2 linked regions of the Homo sapiens genome follow. The protein of the gene in region 1 purifies or fractionates together with the protein of each later gene. This does not show direct contact. Each region holds a gene or a part of one and is shown on either strand. Other genes may lie near its edges.

What was found.
Region 2: the proteins of PTPRA (region 1) and GALNT12 purify together in Homo sapiens (affinity purification with mass spectrometry; 2 studies listed by BioGRID and IntAct, with this or other methods). This does not show direct contact.

The regions. Positions count from the first base shown.
Region 1 is NC_000020.11:2,868,648-2,876,490, reverse strand, and holds the start of PTPRA (receptor-type tyrosine-protein phosphatase alpha isoform 1 precursor), read right to left. Parts: upstream 3,011-7,843; 5' UTR 2,731-3,010; intron 1-2,730. UniProt on the Homo sapiens protein: Tyrosine protein phosphatase which is involved in integrin-mediated focal adhesion formation.
Region 2 is NC_000009.12:98,838,658-98,845,690, reverse strand, and holds part of GALNT12 (polypeptide N-acetylgalactosaminyltransferase 12), read right to left. Parts: intron 5,690-7,033; coding exon 5,558-5,689; intron 1,596-5,557; coding exon 1,482-1,595; intron 1-1,481. UniProt on the Homo sapiens protein: Catalyzes the initial reaction in O-linked oligosaccharide biosynthesis, the transfer of an N-acetyl-D-galactosamine residue to a serine or threonine residue on the protein receptor.

The sequences.
Region 1 (7,843 bases):
TAAATATGTTAAGTAAAAAAACCCAGTAAGGTGTGAGTGGTACGTCCCATGGTGGGAGGAGTATGGATAAGCAGGCACATATTTATAAAGCAACAGTGTCTATGGAAGGCCATATAAACTGAAAACTTCAGCCATCTCTGGGGAGGAGGTTAGGGAGACAGGAGACTTGGGGCCAGGGTAGGAGGGACATTTTTCTCTATATACTCTTTTGTATTGCTAGAACTTTTGAATTTTTCTCTCATCTGCATTAATTATCTTTTCCCAAAATTGAGCAGGATTCTCTCTACACCTTCCTCTGGGTCTAAGAGGCTGTGACTCTACCTCTGTCAGACCCAACCAGTGCCTCCTATATTGCAGGGGCATCTGCATTTGGCCCTATATTGCCCCCAAATGATCTTTCCAAAATTCTTTCAGCCCAAGTCCCTGACCTCCTTTAAATCCTCTAGTAGCTCTCCATTGTCCTTACCTGATCCAGCTATGATTAACCTCTTCCCTCCTCCCCAAGGACAGTGGATTCCTTCCACCACCAAGTTTGCTTGTGCTGCTCCCTCTTGCCTATGTGTGCAGTCCACCACGCGCAAACTCCTATGCATCCTTCATGATCCGAAGGCCCCCCCGTCCCAGGAAAGCTTTCCCAAATCACCCAGGCAGGGGATGCTCCCTACACAGCCTGGCAGAGGCTCTGCAAATACACGGCCAAAATTCAAATCTTGACTATTCCCTCATTTGCCCACTGTTTGGCCTCAGTTTCCAACCCTGTAGAGTAGGAATAAGCCCTTTTATGACTGTTGAAAAGACTGAGGGAATTCATGGAAAACATTACATAGCTTGTCACAAGGCAAATAAAAAATAGCTATTATTATTATCACAATCTTATAGCACCTGTGATGTATTTATATCCACCTGTCCTACATTAGACTCTGAGTTCCTCAAAGGTTAAGGACTGACTTCCTCACTTTTGTATCCCAAGCAATTCACCTGGCAAAGGGAAGACACATGAATGTACTGAAGTCAGAGGGGTGGTTTTTCTGGTTCTGTATTTCACCCAGATGTTAAGTGGCTAAACAGAGAACAGGCCCCGGGATCCCACCATGCCTTACAATGCACGGTATCAGCCAGGTCACTTTGAGCAGGCAGAGGTGAAAAGAGACTGAAGGGCTTTTAGTCTTTCAGAGACAGTTTTTTGGAGGCCAGTGGGATATGGGACCTACCAGTTCCCACCTGCTGACTGCTTATGGGGGCTGGGTGGGATGGACATGGGGAAGCCGGGAATCAGAAATACTAAAAGTCCTGGGCATGTACTCCAAGCAGGCCTTCAAAACACGAAAAAATCTCTTGGGAAGTGGATACCGGGAAATAAACAGAGCCTAGGCATAAGAGAGAAGAGATTGGAAAGAATCTACAAGACAACTTGGAGGATTCTCCCACCACGGGAGATAGAAAGGTGGGCAAGACACAGCTCCTGCCCGCAAGAAGCTTCTCAAATGAGAAGAACTTTAAAAGAAAAAGTGGAGCTTGGCAGGTAAAGGTGGGGAAGAAAGAGGATCACATAAAACAAAAACATCCCAACATGTGAGGGGGCAGTCAAGCAGCTCTGAATACTAGCCAGCAAGCGGGATGAGGGGAAGGAGAATTGGAGGATCCGATTAGGCTAAAAGTAAAGGAGTAAATTGAGGCAAGATTGTCAAGGGCTTTGTATGACCTGATAAGGCATTTTAGGCTTCATTCATCCCATGGGAAAAAGAAAAGCGAGGGAGTTTTTAAGTAAACAAGTGACAGCATCAGATCTGTTTCTGAAAGGAGTGGCCAGGCAGGAAGATGTTCGCCCTTTCCTAGTCAGTCCTCCTCTCGCCCACCATCTTCTGTTTCTCAGGCTGCCTGCACAGCTAGCAGGTGGCAAACGAAGCCATCTCCAGGGTGATGTGGACTGGTTCTAGAGCCGGAATCCCTCTCCTGAGCAAAGGCTTCTGATGGCGTTCACCCTGCAGAGGGTGGATTTGCACATTCTTCTTTTCCTGTCTTACAAATATCATCAGTGATCTCAAAAATAAAAACGAAACCCTCAAGACAGGACTCTGCTCTGCTATTTTTTTTTTTTAATCTTCAGGAGATATAATTAGTAACTAATTTTTTCAAAAAAAATTTTTTATTTACCGAAAGTAAAAAGGGAGGGGACCTGCGTTCTCAATTGGCCTATTCTGAATTCTGGGCAGCTCTCAGCCCTTATTTCCCTTCTTAAACAGCCTCAACAGTTGGGAGAGGGCGGCAAGGAGAGGGGCCTGGGAGACGGGCCGGGGGACCGAGGGAGGTGGACTTGAAGGGAAAGAAAAGTTGGTCACTGCAAAAGCAAATTTTCTCATGCCAAGAGTTTTCCTCTTTCCTCCCATTAAATGGACCTGAGCAAATTCTGTTCTCGCCGTTCTAAGTTTCTTCTCTGAGAATCAACTCTGGCAGTGCCCTGGCCTGGTCCCAGAAGGACGCATGCAAAGTTCCTGGGCAGTCGCGAGGGGTCGGCACTCGGGCCGGCACGTTTCCGGGGACCCCCTCCCCGCGACGGACCCGCAAGGATGCACAATCAACCTGCAGGCGCCCGCAGGCTTCTACCCGGAAAAGATGGCTTAGGGCTTCGGGCTCCGGGCTCTGGGCTGTGGCCCGGGACCCCTCCCACCGCCCCCGGGAGCCGCTCCCCCTTCCGGAGCCCACCCGGGCGCAGCGGCCGCGAACACTCACAGAGTCGGGCGTTGGGCGGGACCGCTGGGGACGAGGACAGCGGCTCCGCCTCGGCTCCGCGGCGGCGTTTCGGGCCGCCACTAGCCCTCAGGGCCGCCGCCCGGCCCGCGGCTCCGAGCCCCGCGGCGGCGGCGGCGGCCTCGCCTCCATGGCGAGGGGAAGCGGCTGAGGGGCGACTGGGCGGGCGACAGTGATGGCGGCAGCGGCCGGGGTCCGAGCGCGATCGCGCGCGCGCGCGTCTCTGTCAGCGCCGCACTCGCCGCAGCCTCGCTCCCGACCCGGCCTTGGCTGTAAGACGCGTGTTCATTGGCTGTTCAGAGACAGGCGCTGGTTGGCCGACAGCGAACGGGCGTCTCCGGCCCGCGCGGGCCCCGCCCTTGCGCTCCGCTGGGCGCTCACTTGCCGGCTGGGGCGCCGAACCCGGTCGCACGTTCTCCTGGTAGCTCCAGAGGGGTTCGCCCCGGGGCTGCCCAGTCCTTCGGGAAGCTGGACCCCGGAAGGACCGGCTGCGAGTGCACCAGTGCCTTCAGCCATTCTACAGTCACAGGCCTCATGACTTGGGCCTTCTTCCCAGTTTACAGATCAGGAAACCGAGGCCAGGCACAAACTACACCAATGTCTAGCCACCAGGGCGGCCTGCAACTCGAGAGCCATCTTCCTAACCCTCTCCAAACGTGATACTGTGGGTCTTTTTTTTCCCTCCCCTAATTGCTGCAAAGAACGACGGATCTCACTGGGGAGGGAGAGGAACCTGCCAAGTCCCTAGAACGGATCTGGCTCCGTGGGTGTCGTCTTATATCAAGTCAGCCCACGCCGTCCCCACCCGAGCTCCAGGGTAATCTCCCCCGCTTTCCAGATGCGCATGCTGGGGCCCCGCTCGCCACCGAGCTGAGTAGAAGCACAACACATGGTGCTCTGCGATGGAGGTGCCTTTTGCGATACGCCTGGCGGGGGAGGGGAGGCTCAAAACGCAGAGAGGAGCCAGAGTGCGCCCTCCCCCGGCCGGGGTTGGGGCGCGTACCCCCTTCCCGGCGCTCCCGGCACGGCGTCTGGTGCGTGACACCCGCGAAGCAATCGCTCAGTCCATCCAGCGGCAGCAGGTTCCTACACGGATCCCCGCGGGTGCTGCAGGACCTGAGCGTCTGCGGCTGAAAGCCGATTACGCAGTCGAGATAGGTGGTGGCAAATGCGACATTTCGCCGGGTTGTGATCCCCAGTAGGGACCCCTGGACATTCCGAGACCCGCGCAGGGCGAGCGGCTGGGCGTCTGCAGGCAAAAGACAGATTGCACAGTAGCGCACAAACCGAGCTTGCGGGTAGGGGACGCTTTATCCCAGACCCAGAGTCTGCGGTTCCCGGGGTAGGTGGCGGCGAGTCTCTCCTCCAGACCGGGCAACCCCTGAGTCCCCCTCACGCACCCCAGGCCGGAAGGAGTCCCACATTCGGGGCGCCCCCGGGGAAGGGTTGTGACCGGCGGCAACTCTTCATGGCAGGAAACACTGCGGCGCAAAAGGGGCTCCCAGCAGCCCCCACCATCTCCAGTCCTACCATCTCCGGTCCCCACCACCGCCTTCTGTTGGGGCGCCAGTTAGGGACTCTGTGCCCCACTCCTCCGTATTGTGGGCTCACATCAGCAGCCCCTACCATCTCCAGTCCTACCATCTCCGGTCCCCACCACCGCCTTCTGTTGGGGCGCCAGTTAGGGACTCTGTGCCCCACTCCTCCGTATTGTGGAATAAGTTAGTCCATGCTAACCAGAGCCAGGGCCTGGGAATATGGGTGGGGCGGGCCTCAGGCCGTCCCCTCCCCAGCAGGGAAGTCTCTCCTTGAGTGGGAGTTGTGACTCTCTCTCCCTCTCAGCAGGGCCAGCCTAGAGGTGAGGGTGAAATGGCCGAACCCGACACCTCTGACCAATAGACACTCCAGCCCAAAGGCCCAGAGTCCACACGCCTACTCTCCTAACGCTCAGACCCCAGTGAGGGTGGATCCTTCCCCACGCCCAACATTCACATATCCCCTTAAGTCCAAACTCAATCTATCCCGCAACACCGAATGGAAAAGTGAAAAGCAGGAAGTCAAAGTGTGAAAACCCCTAACAAGTAATGACTGCAAACGCAGGAGGTACCTCAGTAGCTGGGATAGCAGCCCTATGCTCTAGAACCAAACCCCACCAGCTTACTTTTGCCTTATATCTAATTTACACTATTATTTCTTAATATGTTTCTTTTTGTTGATTAGTTTTTTTTTACTTTTTATTTGTATTACCCTAGAAGGGGTTGACATGCTACTTATATTTTTAATATAACTGAAATAGTGATTGCAGTAAGTGTTCATCTTTGAGATTATCTGAAGGACCCCTTTTGGATATGACCACACTTGGAAAAATTGTTGTTGGGCGTGGTAGTCAAAGAGCCCGGGGTTTCCAGCCCCACCATGTGCTGGGTGACCTGAGCCTCCCTCTGCAACTCTTCCTGGAACTTCCCAGGGCTGTATTGAGAATTAGGCATGTTCAGCTTGGCAAGTAACCCATTCTCAGGAAATGAAAGTTCTTTCTCTCCCCATGAGACAGCTGCACTATGGTCAAAGCATTTGTGGGGTGTGCACAGGGGTGACAGAACTACAGACCAAGGAGAACTACAGACCCTGGAGACCCTGGGAAGGAGGGTTCAGCTCAGCAACCACACAGATGCTGTTTCCATTGGAAGAAGACAGAGCCCCCTCCTCAGCTGCCTGCCTGTAGAGACCTGCCCAGCCCTCCATCCTACTTGGCTCCCAGAGTGTCCTGAGCTCCCTCGCCCATCATCATCACAGAGTAAAGGGTTATCCTGGAAGAGAAGAGAACTGAGGAAGGGAAAGGAGGCAGTTTCCTGTGCCCAAGCCTACCCAAATGGGGGACTGCAGAGCCCTCCTACTCCTAGTCCTGCATTAGTCCCAACCCACAGGAGCACATACCTACAGGTAGGCATTTCGCAGCCACCCCACAGGTGCCCCAACAGTCACAGGGTTTATGAGCAAAGGAGAGGATCAGGAGAGCTGGAGGATGGGGGGAAAGGACTCCTGTTTCTTTAGGCAAGTCATTTCCCCTCTCGGGGCCTCCTTTCCCCTTCTAGTAAATGGAACAATGAGTCATTCTCGCAACAAATACTTATTGAGTGCAGACCATGTGCTGGACACAGCAGGGAATAAGACAGAAGAGGACAGAAGAGGCCTCTGCTCTCAGGAGCTTACATTCTGGATAGGAACACAGACAATAAACAAAAGAACAAGAAAATTTCCTAAATGCTGAAATGAAAATAAAGCAAGGCAATAAGATAGAAAGGTGAAGTAAATGAGAGCCAAGTCCCTTTGCAGGCCACACTGTTCAAACCCGAGTTTTTTTTTTCTTTTTTTTGAGACGGAGTTTTTGCTCTTGTTGCCCAGGCTTGAGTGCAATGGCACGATCTCGGCTCACTGCAACCTCTGCCTCCCGGGTTCAAGCGATTCTCCTGCCTCAGCCTCCCGAGTAGCTGGGATTACAGGCATGCGCCACCACGCCTGGCTAATTTTGTATTTTTAGTAGAGACAGGGTTTCACCATGTTGGCCAGGCTGGTCTTGAACTCCTGACCTCAGGCGATCTGCCTGCCTCAGCCTCCCAAAATGCTGGGATTACAGGGGTGAACCACTGCGCCTGGCCAACCCCAAGAGTCTTTCACTGGAACTTTGTATCTAAGAGACTGGACATACAGCCCCTTACCCTGAGAAGGTGAGTTGTAGGAGCCTTTGCTCGATATATATATATATATTTTTAAGACAGAGTTTCACTCATTGCCCAGGCTGGAGTGCAATGGCGCCATTTCAGCTCACTGCAACCTCCACCTCCTGGGTTCAAGCAATCAAGCGATTCTCCTGCCTCAGCCTCCCAAGTAGCTGGGATTACAGGACCCGCCACCACCCCCAGCTAATTTTTTTGTATTTTTACTAGAGACAGGGTTTCACCATGTTGGCCAGGCTGGTCTCAAACTCCTGACCCCAGGTGATCCACCCACCTAAGCCTCCCAAAGTGCTGGAATTACAGGCATGAGCCACTGCGCCCAGCCTTTGCCCTGATTCTCCCTGCACTGGCTACCACTGATACAAGAAGAAATGTTCCCAGATTCTTTGCCTCCAGCTACACAGTCCTAGTTCCTAGCCCCAATCCTAGCGTCATACATTGGACGAAACTTGGCCCTGCCCACCCATGTAGGCATAGGCCTGCTGTACAAACTGCTCAGGGCAGAAGGCATCTCACACTAATTTCAATTGAGTAAGCAAGGATTTGAAAAAAGAAAATCCCAGTTCTGGTTTTTAAATGTCACAATTCATAGGCTTATACATCTGTCAAAACTTAGAAAATTACATTTAAGATCTGTGGATTGCAATGTATGTAGATTTTGCCTGAAAAGAAAAAAAAAATTGCAAACCAAAAATGAACTCTAGTTATTGAAATGCATACTGAAGTATTTAGGGGGAGGTGTACTGATGTCTGCAACTTACTTTGAAATATATGAAAAATACGATGGATTGACATAGAGGAATGGATAGATGAACAGATGTGTGATATAGTAAGATGCTAATGGTAGAATCCAGTGGTAGTTACACAAATGTTCACTGTAAAATTATTTCTACCTGGCTGTATGTTTGAAAGTTTTTATAATAAACTGTGGAGGTGGGGGGCAAATCAGTGATTAACTTTACAAAAAAGTATACAAAACTGCCTTTTTAAAGCAACTCTCCCCATAGACAATTCCAATGCTTCTCTACATGCACACACACCTTTTATAAAGTTGAAATCACTGTTGATATACATTTGTCATCAGTTAAAAGTTATTTCTCACATATTTCTAAAACTTCATATGTACAGTGTTTGTTTACATAGCCTATGAGTAAATATACTGTATGTTACTTTGGAGATGTGGGTTTTGTATTGTGTACATTCTAAAAGCACTGGTCAAGCCTCCCTTTCCAGAGAGGAAAACTGGGTTGTTTGATAGCAATCCTTTTTCATTGAGAACTCGAAAAGCTGGGAAAACATTTTTTAAAGGCATCAAAGAGCTACCAGGGCAGTGAGGAATTGTGGGGCCAAGACTGGGGACA
Region 2 (7,033 bases), on another chromosome or scaffold:
TGCTGTGTTGGTGTGGGATGGGAGGAAGGGAAATGGACCCATCGCAGCACTAGCTCTTGGGGGCTCTCTGTGACCTTGACTAGCTACTTCCTCTCCTTTTCCTCAGTCTCTCCTCCCAAACCCCCAATATGACAGTTCCTAGAAGATGTAAAGTGCTGTGCACAAGCAGACAATGTGACCGCTAACGGGAAGACTTGGTTCTTCCCGGACAATGGTTTTCCTACCTGAGTGTACTAGGAACTACCTACAGTGACTGTTAAAAATGCTGATTGCTGGCCCCATCCCAGAGACGGAATAAGGATTCCTTATGTGTGAGGTGGGGCCTAGGAAGCTGCATTTTCTGCATCTTTGACAAGACACCCACCCACCCCACCAGCCCCTTTCAAAAATTCTGACACAGGTGGGTGTTCTTAAGGCGCACAGAGCAGGGCTTGTCACACCATTATCTCCTGAAAAGCTGCTTAAAACAAGAGTCTGGGATTCGGTAGTGTTGGGATCAGTCTGAAAATGTGCATTTCCAAGCTCCCAGATGATGCTGATGGTAGCACTCAGGTACCATCAGCTTTGAGGAAGGCTGTTCTAAACAGTGTTGAAAACCTAAATAATTTAAGGTTGCAGGGGTTGGAATTAAGAAAGTTTACTCTTGACCATAAGAAGGCCTCATATTCAAGTGGCATTGGGGTGAATCCAGATTGGAAAAAACAACATCTGAATCTCTATCCCTTTGTTTCCTGGTGTCTGATAACTCCTTGGTACGGTGAAGCTTCAGAGGCCCAGAACCAACACTTCTCTCCATTCCTGCATCCTCCAAGGGTCCTGTCAACTGCTTTCCAGGGCTGGGGGTCCTTTTCTGGTCTTCAGACTCCCCCAGGACTGAATCTCCCCTGCCCAGCCTGAATTACAGCCCTTCACCCAGACAGATACACCTGGCCCCCAGCTGAGGCAATGTCCCTAAACACCACCTTGCAAGGTGGCCCTATGCATTAAACCTGTCATTCCACTTAACAATTAATTCTAAGGAAATCATCTGAAATGCAGATCTGTTACTTTATCCTTCCTTCTGTCTGACCCAAGGTGTTAGAGGCAGGGTTATTTATAATTGCAAAGACAGGGAGGCAGGGAACCAGTTAACGAAACAGTAATACAGGTACAAAATGAAATATCAAGTGGCCACTAGGAATGATATTCTCAAGGGGTATCTAATAACATAAGAAAAGTAGATGAAGGGAATGGAAATAATGGAATATAAAACATACAGACATTATGACAACTATTTACAACACATAATCTCTGTGTGTTATGTGTAAAAAATGATGGGAAGAAAACACATTTTAATTTTAACAGTGGTCTCTCTGAGTCTGGCCACCCTAGGCTTCTACTTTTTATATTTCCCAAATATTACTTTTACAAGAAAAAAATTCAACTATTTAATTTTTTTAACAAAACACACAGCTTTCTCCTCTTTTGAGGCTCATACCTACCTGATTCTGGCCCATCCCATGACAGAGGTACAGAATGACCTGGTGTCCCACAATCTGGTTTTCATCGGGAGGGTTATAGTCAAAGCAGTAGTCTGTTAGTCCTTTGTTCTGGAGCTAAATAAAACATAAATGTGGCATTTCAGTCCAGATTTATAGACACTAACAGATGCCACACAAGGCTTGGGGAGGGTACCTGGCATGAGAGGAGAGCCTGCTTCAAGAGCTAGACGCAAAGGTAAGAGTCTTTTCTGTACAGCACCTTCTAGCTTTAAAAGTGCTTCCTTGTTCTGCAGGCAAGAATCCTTACCCCTATTTTAAGTTGATAAGCCTGAGGACCAGAGAGATAAACTCTTCATGGCCTGAAAGCTCCTCTCTCTTTCTTTCTCATTAGTAGCAGCCTTACTGCTGTGCAAGTCCAAATATACCTGGGTTGATACCTCGAACTAGATTAATTAAGCTAACTAAATCAAGCAGGCGATAGACACAAAGAAAGAATTATTTTAGGCTGGGTTCAGTGGCTCATGCCTGTGATCCCAGCACTTTGGGAGACGGAGGCAGGTGGATCACTTGAGGCCAGGAGTTCTAGACCAGCCTGGCCAACACGGCAAAACCGCATCTCTACTAAAAATACAAAACTTAGCCAGGTGTGGTGGGGTGCACCTGTAGTACCAGCTACTTGGGAGACTGAGGCGGGAGAATCACTTGAACCCAGAAGACGGAGGTTGCAGTGAGCTGAGATCATGCCACTGCACTCCAGCCTGGGCAATAAGGCAAGACTCTGTCCTCCCCACCACCAAAAAAAAAAAAAGAATTAATTTAAATCACTTTAGAGCATGGTATGTTTGAAAATACCACCTATGAAATATATTCTATAAACAAACTGAGCTGCAAAGAAATTATAAACCTCATTCAGTATAATACTCTAAGCTGTAGTACTGTATTAATTATCTTGAAACTATTTTCAATATATTTTAGGATAAAGAAAATAAGTAATTATGTTAATATTGTTTAAAACCAAGATTTTCAGGGTAAGAAAAAAGAAATATGAGTATGCTATCAAAGAAAATTTTTCAAGACTACATTGGATTTTCAGATATTAATATAAGCTCATGATCTGTTTCTCAAAAATACGAATTTCCTTTCTCTGCCCAATGAGAAAAATTTAGAGCTGTGCTATTTCATGTGGCGGCCACTGGCCACTGTGGCTACTGGACACTTGAAATGTAACTAATCCAAATTGAGATATGCTATAAGTATAAAATTCACACCAGATTTCAAGGCTTAGTATGAAAAAAGAATGTAAAATGCCTCAATGAATAAATACTTATATTAATTATATGTTGAAATGATATTATTTGGGATATACTGAGTTAAACATTTCATTAACTTTACTTTTTTTTTAATATGGTTACTAAAAAAATTTAAGTTACAACGGTGGCTCTCATTATATTTCTGTTAAACTGCATGGTCTGGAGGCAATGACAACGCATAGCAACGGGCACCGCCAGCATCCAGACTGACTCCCAATACCGTTACCCAACAAAGGAGCAGGGCTTCTGGGAGGAATGGCAGGAAATGTTTAAAACTCGAATGGGACAACTTGGCCAGAATCAAGGAGGCTATCAACGCCACTGTAAGGTGTCAAAGACCTCAGAAGCCAAAATAAAGGGACTCCCACTGGCCAAAAACAATTTTCATATATTTTTTAAAAAGATGAATTGGGCTGGGCACAGTGGCTCATACCTGTAATCCCAGCACTTTGGGAGGCCTTGGCAGGAGAAATGCTTGAGCTCAGGAGTTCAAGACCAGCCTGGGCAACATAGCGAGACCTTAGTCTTTACTAAAAATAAAAATAAAAAATTAGCCAGGTGTGGTGGTGCTCACCTGTAGTCCCAGCTACTTAAGAAGCTGAGGTGGGAGGATCACTTGAGCCCAGTGATCCAGGCTACAGTGAGCTACAATGGTGCCACTGTGCTCCAGCCTGGGTGACAGAATAGAAGCCTGTCTCAAAAAACAATACAAAGAAGAAAAGATGAATTGATTGAAGCACACCGGCTATTTAAACACCCATTAGTTTACAATGACACTCAAGAAGAGAAAAAGCCAAAAAAAACAATGAGCCACAACAAAAAAAAAAACAACCCAGTAGATACAACTGGAGGAAACTAAAATACCAACTCTTACTCTGAAAATAAGCAAATAAAGAAAAGACTTAAGAATTTGTTATGCCTTGGCCGGGCATGGTGGCTCATGCCTGTAATCCCAATAGTTTGGGAGGCTGAGGCAGGCAGATCACCTGAGGTCAGTAGTTCAAGACCAGCCTGGCCAACATAGTGAAACCCCGTCTCTGCTAAAAATACAAAAAAAAAAAATTAGCCAGGCATGGTGGCAGGTGCCTATAATCCCAGCTACTCGGGAGGCTGAGGCAGGAGAATTGCTTGAACCCATGAGGCAGAGGTTGCAGTGAGCTGAGAGCGCGCCATTGCACTCCAGCCTGGGGGACAAGAGCAAGACTTTTCTCTCAAAAAAAAAAAAAAGAATTTGTCGTGCCTTTTCTGTATGAATTCTAAAACTCACATATACCAAATTGCTTTAGTTAATGAGGGAGTGTTCTTCTTTATGAAAAATTTCAGCTAATAAATGTGGAAGAAATGAAAGAGAAAAATCACCATTTGGCAACTCCATTTGAAATAATGGGCCTAGGCAATGGTTATCAGTGGCTACTAAAAACATGAGACAGAGGCTGATGGGGGTCTTATAATGACTGGTCCAGGTGAGGGATACTCCATTAACCCACTGGTCAACCTTATCACTAAAGATGACCATACTTCCTATGCTCCTGATATGACACAACATGAACACATAACATCACCCACAAAGTGTTCTTGCCAAAAAGGTGGATCCTGACTCTAATCAAACCTTTAGAACTCACTTCTATCTTAAAGAAATATGGGGGAGAGAGGCACAACTTGAAGACACCACAAAGAAAAAAATAGCAATTGCAAGAGTGAGACACTCCACAGGTAACATATTGTTTTTTCAACAAGTTAAAGATATTAACAAGAAAAAGGAAGAGGGCTGCCTTAGATTAAAAGAGATTTAGGAGACAAGACACAACCATCACATGCAATGTGTGCACCTTGTTTGGATCCCAATTCGAATTAGCCAGCCACTCAAAGAGAAACTGGAAAAGTTGGGGGAATATGTATTAGAACTAGACATTAAATGATACCAAGAAATACTTGTTCATTTCTACGGTTTTGTAAGATAATGTCCAAATGTTATGAAAATGCATAAAATGCAGAGGAGAGAAATGACACAATGCCCGGGATTTGCTTAAAAAGAGGAAAATGTGGAGGTGAAGTACAGGAGAGAGAAAGAGATAAAGAGAGGCAGGATCTTGAAAATTCTAGAATCTCAGGGATGGTATTCATTATACCATTCTCATACCATTCTCTCTGCATTTCTATATGTTTGAATATTTTCATAATGAAAATAGAATGTAACATGAATATCCTGCTTTATATGTATCAAAGACTTCTAGAATGGAACACCAGCACTTCTGATCAACACATCACAGCAGAGGAGACCTTGCTAAGCTGGTGTCATTCCCAGCAAAAACAAAAGACACTGGACATTTTATCTGGTCTCATCCCAAAAACATTTTTTAGGTTTTTTGAAATACTCGAAGTGACTCCCCTATACCCACTATTGCCTCTGTAGACTTCCAAACTTGGAATTATTAACTAGTCCAGCCATTGAGACTAGAAGTAATATGATAAGGCGTTGGTAAAAACTAGGACATGGAAACACCAGATAAGCCTCAGTTTCCTTACCTACAAAATAGTTGTCAATTTTGAGATGGCTTCCAGCTCTGACATTCTGCACCTACGGCCCAGACGCTCACAGGGAGAAAGAAGGGCAGTGGATAAAAAGGTGGTGGGGGGTGGGCAGGCGGGTGGGAGTGGAGGAAGCCAGTGCTCCCCATGACGTGGCCTTTCTTGCCCAGGATTTGCAGAGCAGACCCAGAGGCCAGGGAAGTCCCTGCCTGCCGTGGGCCCACCACCCTCACTCACCATCCCGAAGAAGCCAGGCCTGTCCTCAGGCACATGCAGTTCTGGATACACAGTCTCCAAGAACCACTTGAAGTCTTTACACTGGAGCTTGTCCCGGAGCTGCTTCCTCTCTGTCACATCCCCAAAAGGTTCCTGAGAAAACAACAAAACAGTGAGACCCCATGGGTCCTAGTGCTTCCTTTCAAAGCCCCTGTGTTCACTGATGCTCACTTACTAACCACCAGCCAGCTTTGATGGAGCATTCGTCGCATGCCAGGCCCTGTGTGGAGCACAGAGGATAGAAAACATCCTTGCACCTAATTCTAGCTTCTAGTATGAGAGGCTGTCACACAGACAATTCCATTCCTAGGTGCTCTGTTGGCAGGGGGGTGTGACCAGGTGCACAAGGGTAGAGGACAACCCGCCTGCTGATGGAGTGAAGGAGCCAAGCCCTGGGGCTGCACTGGCATCTATGGATCCCGGACCTGTGACCCATGCTTGTGATCAGAAGTCATCCTGAAACCCAACCAGGGAAATGTCAGTTTCACCGAAACATATGCCATGACTTTCTGGTTTACTACTAATATCTGAATATCCACTTTCAAACACAGGTAAATATTCTAGATGTAATCATGTTCTCAGTATGAAATAAGCAAAAAGAAATACTTATGCAAGTTTGGTTTTATGGGCAAAACTAATGACTGAGAGCTTTTGAATAATTAAATACAGCAAGCCTCTATTTAGTATCGCAAATGTGCAGCCACAAGAAAAATGCTGAGTGCAGAAATATTACCGTACCTGCACTGTCATGTTAAACAATTAAAAGCTGACAAGTTAAATATTGAACAAAATGGTAATAATAAGTACATGTTTGAATAAGATTTCAGATTTCTGCTATTTCCCAGAGTTCTTTCACTGGTGAAAGTCACTGCGCCCCCAGCTTCAGCCAAGTATCCATTTAGCACTTGGCCTTGGACATGAAGCCTAAGGGTGCATTCAGTGCCCCCCTAAAATATTCTCTGGGAACCCTCAGGAAAAGGGAACTATGGGTTCCAGACTGTGCATGAGGAAAGAGTGGGTGTTTCTACTCTATGGTGCTGGGCAAGACGGAGGAGGCAGAAGCAAATGACCATGGAGCCCAGAGCCAGAGAGGGGCTGAGTGGGAGTCCAGCTGAGAACCCATGGGCTCTGCAGAGCAGAGCAAGAGGTGCGCTGCAGAGTACAGGCCCCAAGCCCAGTTCTACCTCCTATCAGCCACAGGGCCTGGACAAGTTCCTTCCAACAGCGTCTCTCTGAGCTTCAGTTTTCTCATCTATAAAATGAGAATTTTATTGCTACCCTGCAGGGTTGCTGGAAGGACTCAGAAGAGACTTCCATGAAGTGGCCTGATGAGAAGCCTTAGAGCAAGACCTTCTTGTATTGCCAAGCAGCCCTACTAGTTATGCAAATGCAGGGCAAGCAGGCACCCTGCCATGGAGCATGCAGAGCTGGCTGGGG